2 separate regions of the Homo sapiens genome follow, and region 2 is linked to region 1. Evidence: fine-mapped expression QTL. Tissue or cell type: whole blood. Region 1 holds a variant in brackets; the other region holds the start of a gene. All regions are shown on one strand. Distances are between the middles of the regions.

What was found. PIP is the estimated chance that this variant, and not a neighbour inherited with it, causes the effect. A credible set is the group of variants that fine-mapping cannot tell apart.
Region 2: TCN1 starts here. The variant in region 1 is the best candidate, but not a certain one, in a credible set for the expression of TCN1 in whole blood (TOPMed, PIP 0.55).

Annotation. Positions count from the first base shown.
Region 1 is chr11:60,069,142-60,077,254 of GRCh38, forward strand. It overlaps MS4A3 (membrane spanning 4-domains A3), which reads left to right. Exons shown (of 7, transcript NM_006138.5): 6 at 433-534; 7 at 1,063-1,974. The coding sequence ends at 1,092. Among named protein-coding and RNA genes, the nearest start is that of MS4A2, 15 kb to the right of the region's middle. The variant G/A (reference allele first, on the strand shown) is at 4,331.
Region 2 is chr11:59,862,550-59,870,662 of GRCh38, forward strand. It overlaps TCN1 (transcobalamin 1), which reads right to left and starts at 3,938. Exons shown (of 9, transcript NM_001062.4): 1 at 3,843-3,938; 2 at 1,358-1,537; 3 at 33-173. The coding sequence starts at 3,921.

The DNA.
Region 1 (8,113 bases):
CTCAGTGTTTTAGTTTCTAGGGATAATGTAAATGCCTAAACCCCTATGAAGTGCTAATGAAATTGTGGAAGGGCCATTTTTGTTCATTTTTCTAAACTGCCTACTCCTCTCCTTAGTTTACTACTATTCAGATTGGAAGATGTTAGTGATAATGTCAGAATTTTGTTTCTACAGCTTCTTCCCCCTGTAGCTACTTCACATGCGTTGACATAGAAATGTGACACATCTTTCTCATTAGAGAAAATGTTTTCATGCTTTTAGATTGAGATACTATCTCTTCTACAGTGTTATATGTGTCTCTGTCTTTAATTTATGGTTCACTTTGTTCCACTTTACGGGAGGGAGATGTTGTAGTCTGGTTTCCTGCTGACATTTTTTTTTTTACCTCTGGATGTTGCCACTGGGTTTGATATAAGGCATCATATCCCCTAGGGCATGGTGTCTCTACTGCTGATTCTCACCTTGCTGGAATTATGCGTAACCATCTCTACCATAGCCATGTGGTGCAATGCAAACTGCTGTAATTCAAGAGAGGTGAGATTTTTCAAATGATTAATCATTCACATGATCTCAAAGCCTCCCTGTAGGGTTTGAAGTTGTTTCTGATGCTTAGAAATAAACCTTTATGTGGTAATGATTTGTGGAGTTCCTGGAATTAGAGATTGTATGAATGTTAGAGATGGAATGAAGGGTAGAAAAGAATTTGGATGTGAACATGCAAGAGGAAATACTGTACTTGATATATAAGAGCATACTTTCTTATACAGCTGTAATTAAGTTTTATTATTTTCTTATAACTTGTAACTTTCTAATTGTATGACCTAGGAAAAATTAATAATTCTTTCTAAATTTTAGATATATTAACTGTAAAATGAAAATAATATTTTCATTCTCTTCTAATGTTTGTTGTGAGTACTGTGTATATAATCTTTATGGCATTTGGCACAGTAAACATCAATGAATGGATTTTATTGTTGATGATTATGATGATAACAGGAAGGGATGGGAGGAGAAGGAGATAATGATCCTGTTCTTGGACATTAATGTTGTTTTATTTTCTAGGAAATTTCCTCACCTCCCAATTCTGTGTAATCAAGAATACCTCCTTAATTCTGAGAGCATGAATATTTGACCTTAAATCTCCAGTGACTCAGAGCTTCACCCACAAACTCAGGAGAACATAAGCCTGCTCGTAAAGCTCAATCCTTCTATCATGGCACCAATCACAAGAACCTTGGACGTTTGACTGACTCTATCCTTTCTCTCCTAACTATAAATCCTATTTGTGTGTCGTGGGTATGGAAGGACAGATATATTTCTTTAGGCATTCTTGGATATCTGTAACTTCTATGATCATTACTCCAAAGTTGTTTCCAGAAATTGGTTCTATTTCTTCTTATCCACCTACTCCATTGCTTTATGAGGTTTAAGGAAGGAAGGCGGTATAATCCCTATTCAATATATTTTTTCTAAAATCCAACTTCTGACCGCCCAGTAGGAAGAAAAATGAGACATTTTTTCCATTACAGAGAAATGCTTCTTGACTTTAACATCAGCATTATAAAAAGTGTCAAATAAAAAATTACCATCATTATCATTAAAATAAATTTTCACTGTATTTGAGATGGGAGGGTTAAGGCTCAGGGATTTTATTTCAGTGAACTGCTGGAACTCACACATGCCCTGATATGTAAATGATGATTTATGTTGGCGAGTCTGAGAGCAAGCCCAAATGTGTTCTTCAAAGGACAATGGGAAACTGTAAAGTAGAGAACTAAAGAATAAGGCCTTTAGAATCTGACACATCTGGGTTCAAATTCTGAAACTGTCACTTATTACCTGTATGAACATGGGCAAATTATCTAATCTCTCTGATCTATTTTTCCTCATCTGTAAAATAGGTGTAATAATAACAACTACTTTGTCGGTTGCTCTGAGGGTTAAATGAAAATAAAAAGAAAATGTGAAACAGCACCACAGGTACTTGACAATGATGTTGCTGTTGTTGTTGGTCTTGCTGTTGCTGGTGAAAGCTAAGGTGGGATTGTGGTCAGATGTGCTGGAGAGATACAGTGGAAAACTTACTTACACTTCCATTGTGGCTCCTCGTATAACCTCCAACAACTCCAATAGCCATCTTTTCGAGGTGGCAATGTGGCGTGAAAACTTCCCTCAGTTCCTCGTTTATAAATCTGCTAAAGCACTTATATTTCTTATTCATAAATATCCAAGAAAAATAAAATTTATGAATAAGAAATATAAGCACTTATTGTGTCCATAAATTTATACCAATAATTTATTCTTAGTTACGTGTATATCGTATGTGCAAAGGTTCTTTTCTAACACTTGTATCCTACTTATATAATAATTATTTCTTTATTTTTTAATCCATTCTGCAGCGGGATAATTAAGGAACCAGAGAGACTGAGGGGTTGAGGAGGAATTATTTAATTATTTAGGTGCACCGACCCAGTCGGATTAACATCCAAAGGACTGAGCCCCAAACAAAGAGTCCGGTTACCTTTTAAGCATTTTGTGCAGCGGGGGACGATCTGTGCAGGGGGAAGCATATTACAGAAGTGAGAAACAAAGACAGTTATTCAATTAAGACATGTATTACATTATTTCTTATTTTTTCAAGGAAAAACATGTTTTACGACTTGAGTTTATCTGCCTAGTGACCTTGCACCTGCACAGCTAGAGAAATAGGGTCTTCACAATGCCTGGGAAAGGGAGAGATAAGGCTCACTAGCCGCAGAAAAACAGGCAGTTAATTTTAAAGGACTCCAGCTCTTTCTCTTCTTCAGGGGGAATTGGGTTTCTCTTACATACAACCGAGCTTTTGCTTACACATTCTTTAATTTCTTTTAATTCCTGTTCTAATTCAACAATCATTTAGGGAGTGCCTACAGTGTGTCACGTATTGTGCTAAGAGCTTGGCATATAATAGAGAATGATGCAAAATCTCTGCTCTTAAGTTGCTTGTAGTGGGAGATACAGACCCCTAGAAACACACAAGGGCTCTCATAGGAAGAGTATAGGAATCTTGAGAAGCACGTAGGACGAGCTTCTAACCCAGATTAGAAGACATGTCAGTGATAATTTTTTAGAACACTTTTCTTCTCAACTGAGTTCTTAAAGATAACTGAGCGTTAACATGATGGAAGGCAAATGGAAGAAAAGAGGATACATTAAAAGCCTTTAAGTTAGAAAAAATTTTGAATATTCAAAGAATAAACTAGAGACTTTAGTGGGTCTAACTTCAGTGTATAATGGGCAGATGGAAAAATAAAAGTTTGGAGAGAGGTGTACATCACAAGAGATTATAAAATGACAGCACTGTGAGTTTTTTTTTATTTTTTTTATTTTTTATTTTTTATTTATTTATTTTTTTATTGATCATTCTTGGGTGTTTCTCACAGAGGGGGATTTGGCAGGGTCATAGGACAATAGTGGAGGGAAGGTCAGCAGATAAACAAGTGAACAAAGGTCTCTGGTTTTCCTAGGCAGAGGACCCTGCGGCCTTCCGAGGTGTTTGTGTCCCTGGGTACTTGAGATTAGGGAGTGGTGATGACTCTTAACGAGCATGCTGCCTTCAAGCATCTGTTTAACAAAGCACATCTTGCACCGCCCTTAATCCATTGAACCCTGAGTGGACACAGCACATGTTTCAGAGAGCACAGGGTTGGGGGTAAGGTCATAGATCAACAGCATCCCAAGGCAGAAAAATTTTTCTTAGTACAGAACAAAATGAAGTCTCCCATGTCTACTTCTTTCTACACAGACACAGCAACAATCTGATTTCTCTATCTTTTCCCCACCTTTCCCCCTTTTCTATTCCACAAAACTGCCATCGTCATCATGGCCCGTTCTCAATGCGCTGTTGGGTACACCTCCCAGACAGGTTGGTGGCCGGGCAGAGGGGCTCCTCACTTCCCAGAAGGGGCGGCCGGGCAGAGGCGCCCCCCACCTCCCTCCCAGACGGGGCGGCTGGCCTGGTGGGGGCTGACCCCCCACCTCCCTCCTGGATGGGGCGGCTGGCCGGGCGGGGGCTGCCCCCACCTCCCTCCCGGACAGGGTGGCTGCCAGGCAGAGACGCTCCTCACTTCCCAGATGGGGCGGCTGCCAGGCGGAGGGGCTCCTCACTTCTCAGATGGGGCGGCCGGGCAGAGACGCTCCTCACCTCCCAGACGGGGTCGCAGCCGGGCAGAGGCGCTCCTCACGTCCCAGACGGGGCGGCGGGGCAGAGGCGCTCCCCACATCTCAGACGATGGGCGGCCGGGCAGAGACACTCCTCACTTCCTAGACAGGATGTCGGCTGGGAAGAGGC[G/A]CTCCTCACTTCCCAGACTGGGCCGCGGGGCAGAGGGGCTCCTTACATCCCAGACGGGGTGGCAGCCGGGCAGAGGCTGCAATCTTGGCACTTTGGGAGGCCAAGGCAGGCGGCTGGGAGGTGGAGGTTGTAGCGAGCTGAGATCACGCCACTGCACTCCAGCCTGGGCAACATTGAGCACTGAGTGAACTAGACTCCGTCTGCAATCCTGGCACCCCAGGAGGCCGAGGCTGGCGGATCACTCGCAGTTAGGAGCTGGAGACCAGCCCGGCCAACACAGCGAAACCGCGTCTCCACCAAAAAAAATATGAAAACCAGTCAGGCATGGCGGCGCGTGCCTGCAATCGCAGGCACTCGGCAGGCTGAGGCAGGAGAATCAGGCAGGGAGGTTGCAGTGAGCCGAGATGGCAGCAGTACAGTCCAGCTTTGGCTCGGCATCAGAGGGAGACCGTGGAAAGAGAGGGAGAGAGAGACCGTGGGGAGCGGCAGCGGGAGCAGGAGCGGGAGAGGGAGAGGGAGAGGGCAGCACTATGAGTTTTAAGAAGCAATTGAAAATGTATGCAGGTTCCAGGCACGGTGGCTCACACCTGTGATCCCAGCACTTTGGGAGGCCAAGATGGGTGGATCACTTGAGATCAGGAGTTTGAGACCAGCTTGGCCAACATGGTGAAATCCCGTCTCTACTAAAAATACACAAATTGGTCATGTGTGGTGGCATGTGCCTGTAATCCCAGCTACTCAGGAGGCTGAGGCAGGAGAATCGCTTGAACCTGGGAGGCAGAGGTTGCAGTGAACTGAGATTGCGCCACTGCACTCCAGCCTGGGCAACAGAGTGAGACTCCATCTAAAAAAAAAAAAAAGAAAGAAATTTACACAGGAATGTCCTGAGACTGGCTTATATTGGTTTGTGGAAGTCAATTTTAAATTTTCAGGGAGCACAGGTCAACATAGTTTGGGTAGCCTGAAGTTAGCTCTGATGGGAGGATTTACACCACAGAGATGGGGAAAAACCACAAGTTTTAGGATTCATGTGTAGATTTTGCCTGCAGCAAATACCATTGTGTTGTTCAAAAGGTGATTTTGTTTCCCTCATTTCTCCTTTATTTATCATTTAAATGTTTCAGTAAGGAAGATTTGTATCTTCTTTCATTTGTTTATTAAAGTATTTATATTGTTATGTACTCATGAATATTTATATTATTCTTTTGGTTATGAGCAATATTTGTTTTGTTTCTCAAAGTTTTCCAGCTTTGGCCATTGGGAGCTGAGTTGGCTCCTGTGTAGTTTTGACATGCTGCACCCCACTCTCCCCTTTTTAGCACTTCCATATTTTCTGGAACTACAGGATTCTTCATGTTATTTCACCTGCTACAGACCTAGAATTTTCATTTCTTCAGGGAGCCCTGGTTTCTTTACTTAGAGAACTATATTTAGAAAACCTGACCTGGAGGCAAGATGTGCTCATTGCTACTGTATGTCACTGCTTTTAGCCCCCCTCAGGAGACAAAGCTAAGAAATATATGCATGTACACTGACCCATGCATGCACATGTCTATATTTATTATCATATGTATGTATCTATCCATCTCTCTCTCTCCATCATGAATTCCTACTGATAAATTCCACTCAAATATGGCCACACAGGGTCCATTCTAGCAACCTCTCAACCTTGCTTATTTATAACCTGTTTTCTGAATATAATAAATCTGGCAACAATTTCCACAATTTATTTCCTTACCTGTTTAACATTAGTATACATGTAAATTCATTTCAGAATTGCTAACCAGTATTTTTGTGAGAAATAAATTTACCACCTAGAGTACACTGTTTGTGTACAGTTCTTTTTATCCTTAGCTTTAAGGTATGCAGTCAGAGTAGTTGTTTTTTATAGGTACTTAGGCCAGCTCCTTTTAACCTCTACCTCTTTCGGTGAGGTTGGCATGCATTTCTAATGTTGTTTAATTTATTTTTCACAGTTTAAATTTCATCCTGCATTCCATAGGTATCTTGGTGAATTTTTATTTTAAACTAGCCTACAGTAAAGTTCATTATTTGCAAAACATCATTTTATCAGTTTTAACGAAACATAGAGTTATGTATCCATAGTACCATACAAAGCAGTTTCATCATCCTAAGAGTTCCCTTCTGTAATCTCTTGAAAATCAACTTCTCTCCCCACCCCAAACTCTGGTAACAACCAAACTATTTTCCATATTAATAGATATATAGATATAGTCTTTTCATATGATATTCTGGAAAATACTATATCTATATATCTATTCATATGGAGGCAGTAGGGTGAGAAGGAGTGAAGGCAGAGATCCAGTCATAAAGCAATGGGTGTTATGGAATGGATTTCAGAGGATGGTGATATTACTAATAATGCCAATTTGAAAGGTCACTATGGCTGCATTATGAATAACAGCTTTGAGAGGGCTGGTACATAAGTGAATATGTAAAAAAGAAACCCAGTGGTACATAAGTGAATATGTAAAAAAGAAACCCAGTAAGAATGGTATTAACAGTGTAAAGTTGGACAATAATATGAGCTTGGATAACTGCTGTGCCAGTGAAAATCAAACAAGTATACAAAATCAAGATAGTTTTAGAATTGGGAAATTTGAGACAAAAATAATGGTGTTAGGAAAGCTAGATATTTACATGGAACAAAGTGATATTGGACCCTTATACCATATACACAAATTAACTCAAAATGAATTAGAGACTTCAGTGTAAGATCTGAGATGATGAAAATTCTAAAAGAAAACATAGGGAAATCTCCTTGACATTGGTCTTGGCAATAATTTTTTTGATAAGACACCAAAAGCACAGGTGACAAAAGCAAAAATAAATAACTGGAGTCACATCAAACTAAAAAGTTTCTGCATAGCAAAGGAAACTAACAAAATGAAAAGTCAATATATAGAATGGGAGAAAACATTTGCAAGCCATTTATCTGATAAGAGGTAAATATGCAATATATGTAAGGAACTCCTACAATTCAGAAGAAAAAAACCACATAACCTTATTTTTAAAAATGGGCAAATGACCTGAATAGACATTTTTCTAAAGAAGACATACATGTGGCCAACAGCTACATAAAACATGCTCAACATTACTAATTATTAGAGAAATACAAATCAAAACCATAATGAGCTATCACCTCACAGCTGTTAGAAGAGCTATTATCAAAAAGACCAAAGATAGCAAGTGTTGGCCAGGGTATAGAGAAAAGCGAACCCTTGTGCACTGTTGGTAGGAACATAAATTGGTACAGCCATAGGGAAAACTGTGTGGGGGTTTCTCAAAAAGTTAAAAATAGGTCCAGCAATCCCACTTCTGGTATATATCCAAAGGAATTGAAATCAGTGTGCTGAAGAGATATCTGTACTCCCACGTTCATTGCAGCAATATTTACAATGGCCAAGATATGGAAACATCCTAACTATCCATGAACAGATAAATGGATAAAGAAAATGTGGAATACATATATAATGGAATATATTTTTTAGTGATAAAAAGGAAGGAAATCCTTCCATTTGTGATAACACGAATGGAACTGGAAGTCATTATTCTAAGTGAAATAAGCTAGGCACAGAAAAACAAATACTGTATGAGCTCATTTATTTGTGAAACCCAAAAAATTTGAACTAATAAAAGCAGAGAGTAGAACGATGATTATCAGAGACTGGGGAGCAGGGGACGGGAGGGAAGTTTGGCTAAAGGGTACAAAACTTCAGTTACAAAATAAACAGGAGCTTTCGAGCAGCGAGATCCAGGGAC
Region 2 (8,113 bases), 210 kb before region 1:
TAGTCTAGGGTCTCTAAATATTTAATTCTTACCCATATTTTCAATTTCTGCTTGGAATTTATTTTCTAGCTTGTCGATCAGGTGGTAATCATATATTAAGTTTTCCTCAGCGTTACGACATACTCCCAAAGCCAGTATAATCAAGGCAAGCTCTCCCGAGCTTACATCTGACACTGAAAAGAAAAGTATTCAAGCTTAATAAGGTACAGGCTTGTGATTTTTTGGGCCTCCTGATTTCCTTGAGACTTATATTGCCTATCACTTTTTTCTTCTGTTGCGCTCTATACAGTCTTGTGTCGCTTAATGATAGGGATAAATTCTGAGAAACTGGTTGTTAAGCGATTTTGTCATTGTGCAAACATCACAGAGTGTACTTACACAACCTAGATGGTATAGTTGACTACACACCTAGGCTATAGGGTACAGCTTGTTGCTCTCAGGCTAAAAACCAGTATAGCATGTTACTGTCCTGAATACTATAGGCAATTGTAGCCCAATAGTATTTGTGTATCTAAACATATCCAAGCACAGAAAAGGTACAATAAAAATACACTATTAAAATCTTGTGGGACCACCGTCATATATATTCATCATTATGTGATGCATTCCTGTATGAATATTTGATTCCTCTCTTCTTTATCCTCAAAGCAGAGCCTTTTAGAGCAGTACTGTATAAATGCAAACTAAATCTTTGTCTTTTCCATAAAAATCACAGAATCGTTTTGGAATCATACAATCCTTATGAAAGTGAAAAAGAGGAAAAATAGATAAACAACAAGATCTTGGGTTTTTTTTTCTTTGTGGTACCAGCTTGCTAGGATAGTAATTCTTGATTTTTAATGTTCTGCCTTTTAGAGTATCCAAACTCTCAGGATTCTCATAATTCTTATAATAATATTATGAGGTAGGTAAGAGTGGCTTCTTTTCCCCTTATACTAATTAGAAAACTGAGGCTCAGTATTAACATGACTGGTTCAAGGCCCACCCATACCTAGTTCAAATCTGGGTTGTTCCATGGTTGCCTTTCCATCACCAGCTTTCTTAGTTATGATCTGTATTCCCATGTGGTTGTGAACTAAGCTAGCTTATATAACAGCATTAATGGATAAAAATCCATAGCTTTTGTTTGTGGCTTCTTGAAGAAAAGTGGTTTTTAAGACCAAAAGAAGCAAGACCTAGCTCTAGGGTGAATGGCATGGGATTGTATTTTGGGCATGTTTCTGTTACCTCAAGTTTGGTACCATTAGAAGGGATGTAGCAGGGATACTTTGGATGCATAATTTTTTAGGATTAGTTGCAGATAATCTTTAAATAGGTAGATTTTTTTCTAAATCTTCCAGAATATACAGCAACTTACATCTGCTTTTCACATTGTATTTGATTTGTTGGATCATCTTTTGCATCAGGGTTTGGATCTGGATTCCAACAAGTTTGAGGGACAACACAACATTGACAGCGCTGGTTCCCCTGTTATAGTTTGACTGGATCATTGTATTCAACAGAGGTTTTAGGCGGATGTAGTTTTCTTCACTTACCTCTGTGGCAGAGAAGGAAGGAAATAAGAAACACATACTCAGAAAATAGTAAGACTTGCAGCAGGGGTTATATAAAAATATTTAGTAACAGATATGGCACAGACCTAGACCAATCCAGTGGCTGCAGACTGTGTTGGTGGAATAATACAAAGGTGGGTCTTGAACCCACCCCCATGCCAGACATTACTCCTTTAACAACCAACATGAAAATGTTTTAATATTTTAACAACTGGTGCAGACTTATCATTGTGTACTGGCAGACTCCTGCCTGGGAAATCTAGCATCATTCCCTAATTTTGTATATGAAGCTTAGATAGATTGTCCTTAAAGAAACTTCCATAATTGGAGGCTGAGCTGAAACTAGACTACATGTCTTCTGACTCTCAGTAAGCAGGACTTTCTACTTCCTGGATTCAGTTCTTTCCTTCTCCATCTTCTAAATCAACTGGGTTAATGTTGAGAAAATGCAGGTAATAATTCTGTGTTATACTGGTGATTGACCCCAAAACTTCATTGTCTGATTACCCAGCTGGCTGGGCATCGAGATCATTATTTAGCATTATGCAGCCTGTAAAAAACTCTCCAGTTTTAGCCTACAATATGCCCCAATTCCAGAGATGGAGGGAAGTCACATTATACTGTGGAAGTAGGAAAATCCATAGCTCCCAAGGAAATAGAGGAGAATAAAAAGATTTACTATTTATTTAAACACAGGACACTTTGTCAATGTATTTTTCCATAATCTTGAGGAGTAGCCCCAAATCCTACATATCTCCAGATTATCTAATGGATTAGTGGGAGAGTGAGAAGAACATGAGGTTTGGATTCAGATTTTGGCCACATTTTGTGCTCCTTAACTTATGACTGTGGATAATAACTTATGTAACTTGTTTTACTCTTAGTTTTCTCATTTAAAAATTGTGGCTGTTAACACTTACCTTACAGATATTGGACAAGAAACCACCGAATAAACTGTAAAATGCTGCACATACTATTATTTCCAGCTCAACTGGAGTTTTTATCACTATACTTGAGAATCAAGGAAATGTAATTTCTCTTGCCCAGTTTTCTTTACTTTAAAAGAATGAGTCAAGAAGATCTGAATAGAGTGATTGTAGAAAGGTCATGGTTTGTTGCAGACACAATGGAACAATTGTGAGTCAGTTCTCTGAGATTTTGTGGAACCATCCAGCTCAGCAGATTTTCTGGCCCTGAAACAGACTTTTTAGTTCCTGATCAACAACTCAAATCAGCTTCCTTGAGTCTCAAAGATAAATTTAATTATTATCATTATTATTTAAAATGAATTGAAAGCTAAAACCTACATAGCCATTCCCTATTCTTAGGATCCAACAGGGGAAATGTCAAGCCAAGAAGAAAAATCAGAGTCAGAAGAGTCTATGCTTTAGCCTGTATGTATACAAGCCTGTCTTCTGTGGTGTTCTCTTCTTACTGGTTAGAGAGCACAGATAGTACCACCTAGTAATCTTTGGACTGGTTTGAAGCTCAATTTCAGAGTAAAGTCTCACAAAAGAGAATTCATGCACTTGAGAACTGCACCAGACTTCATGAGATAATTTGCTTCAATAGTCTCCCCTCATTATCCTTTATTTATGAATGAAGCTAAAGAAATTCAGAAATGTTGGGTCATTCAATAACTAAGGGATCAAACTAAACCTGAATTTAGTTTTCCCTTCTCTTACTTTAAAGTTCTTTTACAGAACCACACAATCTCTGGGGTCAACACCCATGCAAGAGATGATGGAACTTTATCCCATGTGTCCTGGGAAAGAGTTGAAGGAAGGTGGACATGCAACTTGGAACATCTAAACTCACTCATGACAAGACAGCAGTCATCACTATTTGAAAGAGATTATTATTTTTTTCTATGTAGTTACAAGGGGTTAACCCAAAAATCATGCATTGAATTTCAGGGAAAAAAGATTGCATATCAAGACCAAAAGATAACTTTCCATGATCTAGAAAAGTTTCTGGGAGCATAAATTTTCTGTCATTGAAAAGTCACATGAATAGGGAGTTACTTGGTAGGGATGCTGTGCTAGAGAGGATCTGAGCATAGAAAGAGCAGTTAGGCAAGTGAATACACAATCTATAATTCCTCTTACAACAACATGCATTGTGAGACTTTCCTCACCATCTCCTGCCACCCTTTTCATCATTCATGGAGTCCAACCACATACGAAACTGGAATGGGATCTTTTCTCAGGTAACTCTACATAGAGTCTCTTGTCAACAGTTTTCAGTAGACTATCACTCTAGAGTAATTTTAGCTCAAAGTTTACTCACCACAAATCTCGCATAGTTGGCTTGGAATAAAAGAAAACAGTAAGAGCCCCACTAGGGGCAGCTGGTGTGACTGTCTCATCTCTCCAACAGTGTACCAGAATGTTGATGAATTGGCTGGCTATTTATTAAGTGATGGGCAGAAGGTAATGAGAGCTCCTCCTTCAGGTTGCCTCAGCCTCTTTTCACTCAAGCAAATATTGAGCAATGTCAGGAGGTGTGGTCAAGTGTATTTGTCCATGTGATGTAATAAATAAGGAAGAAGACTTGAAGGATGTGGTTAGGGAGAATAAGGCAATAACTTTCCTTTGTCTCCTGTCCTAAACCTTCGGGTTTCATATCTATTATTTGCCTTCCGTGCAGTGAAGATATATTAGGCAAATGACTGTTTCCTATAATCTTTCCTTTTTTTTCCGTTTCACTTTATGTTTTATGTTTCCTGATAAAGTAGATTTGATCATGCAAACACATACAACATATAAAAATGGAAGTAAAAGAAGACATCCAAATGGGAAGCAGGCATATGAAAAAGTGCTTGAAAAGGTGCTTAACATCATTGATCATCAGATAAATGGAAATCAAAGCTACAATGAGATATCCTCTCATCTCAGCTAAAAATGGCTTTATTCAAAACACAGGCAATAACAAATGCTGGCACGGATGTAGAGAAAAGGGAAGCCTTGTACACTGTTGGTGGGAATGTAAATTAGTACAATCACTATGGAGAACAGTTTGGAGCTTCCTCAAAAAACTAAACATAGAGCTACCATATGATCCAGCAATCCCACTGCTGGCTATATACCCAAAAGAAAGAAGACCAGTATATTGAAGAGATATCTGCACTCCCATGTTTGTTGCAGCACTGTTTACAATAACCAAGATTTGGAAGCAAGCTAAGTGTCTATCAACAGATAAATGAACACAGCAAATGTACATATACACAATGGAGTACTATTCAGCCATATAAAAGAATGAAATCCTGTCAGTTGTGACAAAATGGATGGAACTGGAGATAATTATGTTAAGTGAAATAAGCCAGGCACAGAAAGACATACATTGCATGTTCTCACTTATTTGTGGGATCTAAAAATCAAAACAATTGAATTCATAGAGATAGAGAATGAAAAGATGGTTACTGGGGGCTGGGAAGGCTAGTGGTGGGAAGGAGATGCGGAGGGTTAATGGGTACAAAATATTGGAAAGAATGAATAAGACCTACTATTGGTAGCATAACAGGGTGACTATAGTCAATAATAATTTAATTGTACATTTTAAATAACTAATAGTATAACTGGATTGTTTGTAACGTAAAGGATAAATGCTTGACAGGATGAATACCCCCTTCTCTATGATGTGATTATTACGCATTGCATGCCTGTATCAAAACATTTCATGAGCCCCATAAATATATACACCTACTATGTACCTACAAAAATTGAAATAAAAAAATTTAAAAACGGAAGTAAAAGTTGTAAGTCTGAAATTGAAGCAGGCAGTATTGGAGAACCCAGCACATGAGGGGATCTTTGGCATAGTGGTTTCCAAACTATGATTTTTCTCCTAAGATAGATTCCATGAGAGTTTCCTAACCAAGGAGGAAAACCAGAGAGCTATACATCAAATGTGAATTTCTGCCCTGCCAGGGCAGTTGCTACATGTGAGAAGTGTTGCCTATCACAGTTCTTCTGAGAACTATTAGAGAATACTGTCAGCCTAGCTAAGGATGTCATGACTTAATGAGCCACTATTTGCATTGTACCTCTGTGATGGTTAATTTTCTGTGTCAACTTGACTGGCACCTGAGTGCCCAGATTAAACACTATTTCTCGATGTATCTGTGAGGGTGTTTCCAGATAGGATTAGCATTTTAATTGGTGGACTCTGGAAAGTAGAATGCCGTCTCCAATGTAGGTGTGCATCAATCAATCTATTGAGACCCTGAATAGAATAAAATGGTGAAGGAAGGGGGAATTCACCCTTTTTTTGCTTCCTGCCAGCCTGTTTGAGCTAGGACATCTTATCTTCTCCAGCCCTCAAACTGAGATTTACACCATCGGCTCCCCTGGTTCTTGGGCTTTCAGTTTGGCCTGAATCACTCCACTGACTTTTACTGCATGCAGACAGTAGACTGTGGGACTTCTTAGCCTCCATAAGGGCATGAATCAACTCCTTGGAATAAATCTCTTTCTCTCTCTCACATATTTATATAAAACTTATGTGGAAACCACCATTCTACTCTCTGTTTCCATGTATTTGATAATTTTTAGAATCTACATATAAATGAGATCATAGTATTTGTCTGTGACTTATTTCATTTAGCATGATATTCTTCAGGTTCATCCATGCTGTCTCAAAGGGCACTATTTCCTTCTTTTTTATGGCTGAATACTATTCTATTATATAAATATAAATATATATATACACACACACACATATATGTGTGTGTGTATATAAATCACAATTTTTATCCCTTCATCCATCAACAGATATGTAGGTTGTTTCTATGTCTTTGATATTGTGAATAATGCTGCAATGAACATGGGAGTACATATTTTATATAATATATATTTTTGTTTGTTTGTTTGTTTGTTTGTTTGTTTTTGAGACAGAGTTTCTCTCTTGTCGCCCAAGCTGGAGTGCAATGGTGCAATCTCAGCTCACTGGAAACTCCACCTCCCGGGTCCAAGTGATTTTCCTGCCTCAGCCTCCAGAGTAGCTGGGATTACAGGTATCTGCCACCACACCGGCTAACTTTTCTATTTTTTTTTAGTAGAGACAGGGTTTCAACATGTTGATCAGGCTGGTCTTAAACTCCTGACCTCAGGTGATCCACCCACCTCAGCCTCCCAAAGTGCTGCGATTACAGGCGTGAGCCACCGTGCCCATTCGGGAGTACATATATTTCTTTGAAACACTGCTTTTGCTTCCTTTGGATATGTACCCAGAATTAAGATTGTTGGATCATATTGCAGTTCCATTTATAATTTTTTGAAGAACCACCACACTGTCTTCCATAATGGTTGTGCAAATTTACATTCTGCAAACACAAAGGATTCTCTTTTCTCTACATCCTCATCCATACTTTGTTATCTTTTGTCTTTTTGATAATAGTCACCCTAACAGGTATAAGGTGATGTGATTATTCTGATTTGAATTTCTCTGATGATTAGTGATATTGTGCATGTTTTCTCATGCCTGTTTGCCATTTTTATGTCTTCTTTGGAAAATGTTGAGGTCCTTAGCCCATTTTAAAATCAGGTTATTTGTTTTGTTTTTGTTTTCATTTTGCTATTGAATTGCATGGTTCTTACATATTTTGGATATTAATCTATTTTCAGATATAGGTTCGCAAATATTTTCTCAAATATTCCACAGCAACTTGGATGGAGCTGGAGGCAATTATTCTAAGCAACACAGGAGTAGAAAACCAAAAAAAATATTTTCTCACTTATTATTAACATTATTTCATTCCTTTTAATGGCTCAGTAGTAGAATTCTTCTATACCCAATTTGTTGAGAGTTTTTTTTTATCATGAAAGGATGCTAAATTTTTTTGATTGATTTTTTTTTTTTTGCTTTTTTTTTAATGTGCTGTTGAATTTGGTTTGCTAGTATTTTGTTGAGGATTTTTGCATCTATGTTTATTATGGGTATTGGCCTGTGATTTTTTTTTTTTTTTTGGTAGTGTCCTTATCTGGCTTTGGTATTAGGGTAATACTCATCTTGTAAAATGAGTTTGGAAATATTCTTTCTACAATATTTTGGGACAGTTTGTGAGGAATTGCCATTAATTCTTCTTTAGGTATTTGGTTGAATTCACCAGTGAAACATCTGGTCCTAGGCTTTTCTTTGTAGGGAGGTTTTTGATTGCTGATTCAGTCCCCTTATTTATATTTTTGGTCTGTTCAGATTTTCTATGTCTTCATGATTCATTGTTGGCACATTGTGTGTTTCTAGGAATTTATGCATTTCTTCTAGGTTATCCCATTTGCTGGCATATAATTGTTCATAGTAGTCTCTTATGATTCTTTGTATTTCTGTGATAGCAGTTGTAATGTCTTCACTTCTTTCATTTATAATTTTACTTATTTGAGTTTTCTCTCTTTTTTCTTGGTTAGTCTAGCTAAAGGTTTGTCGATTTTTTTTTATCTTTTCCGAAAACCAACTTTTAGTTTTGTTGATCTTTTCCATTGTTTTTCTATTCTCTATTTTATTTGTTTCTGCTTTGATCTTTGTTGTTTCCTTCTTTCTGATAACTTTGGGTTTAGATTATT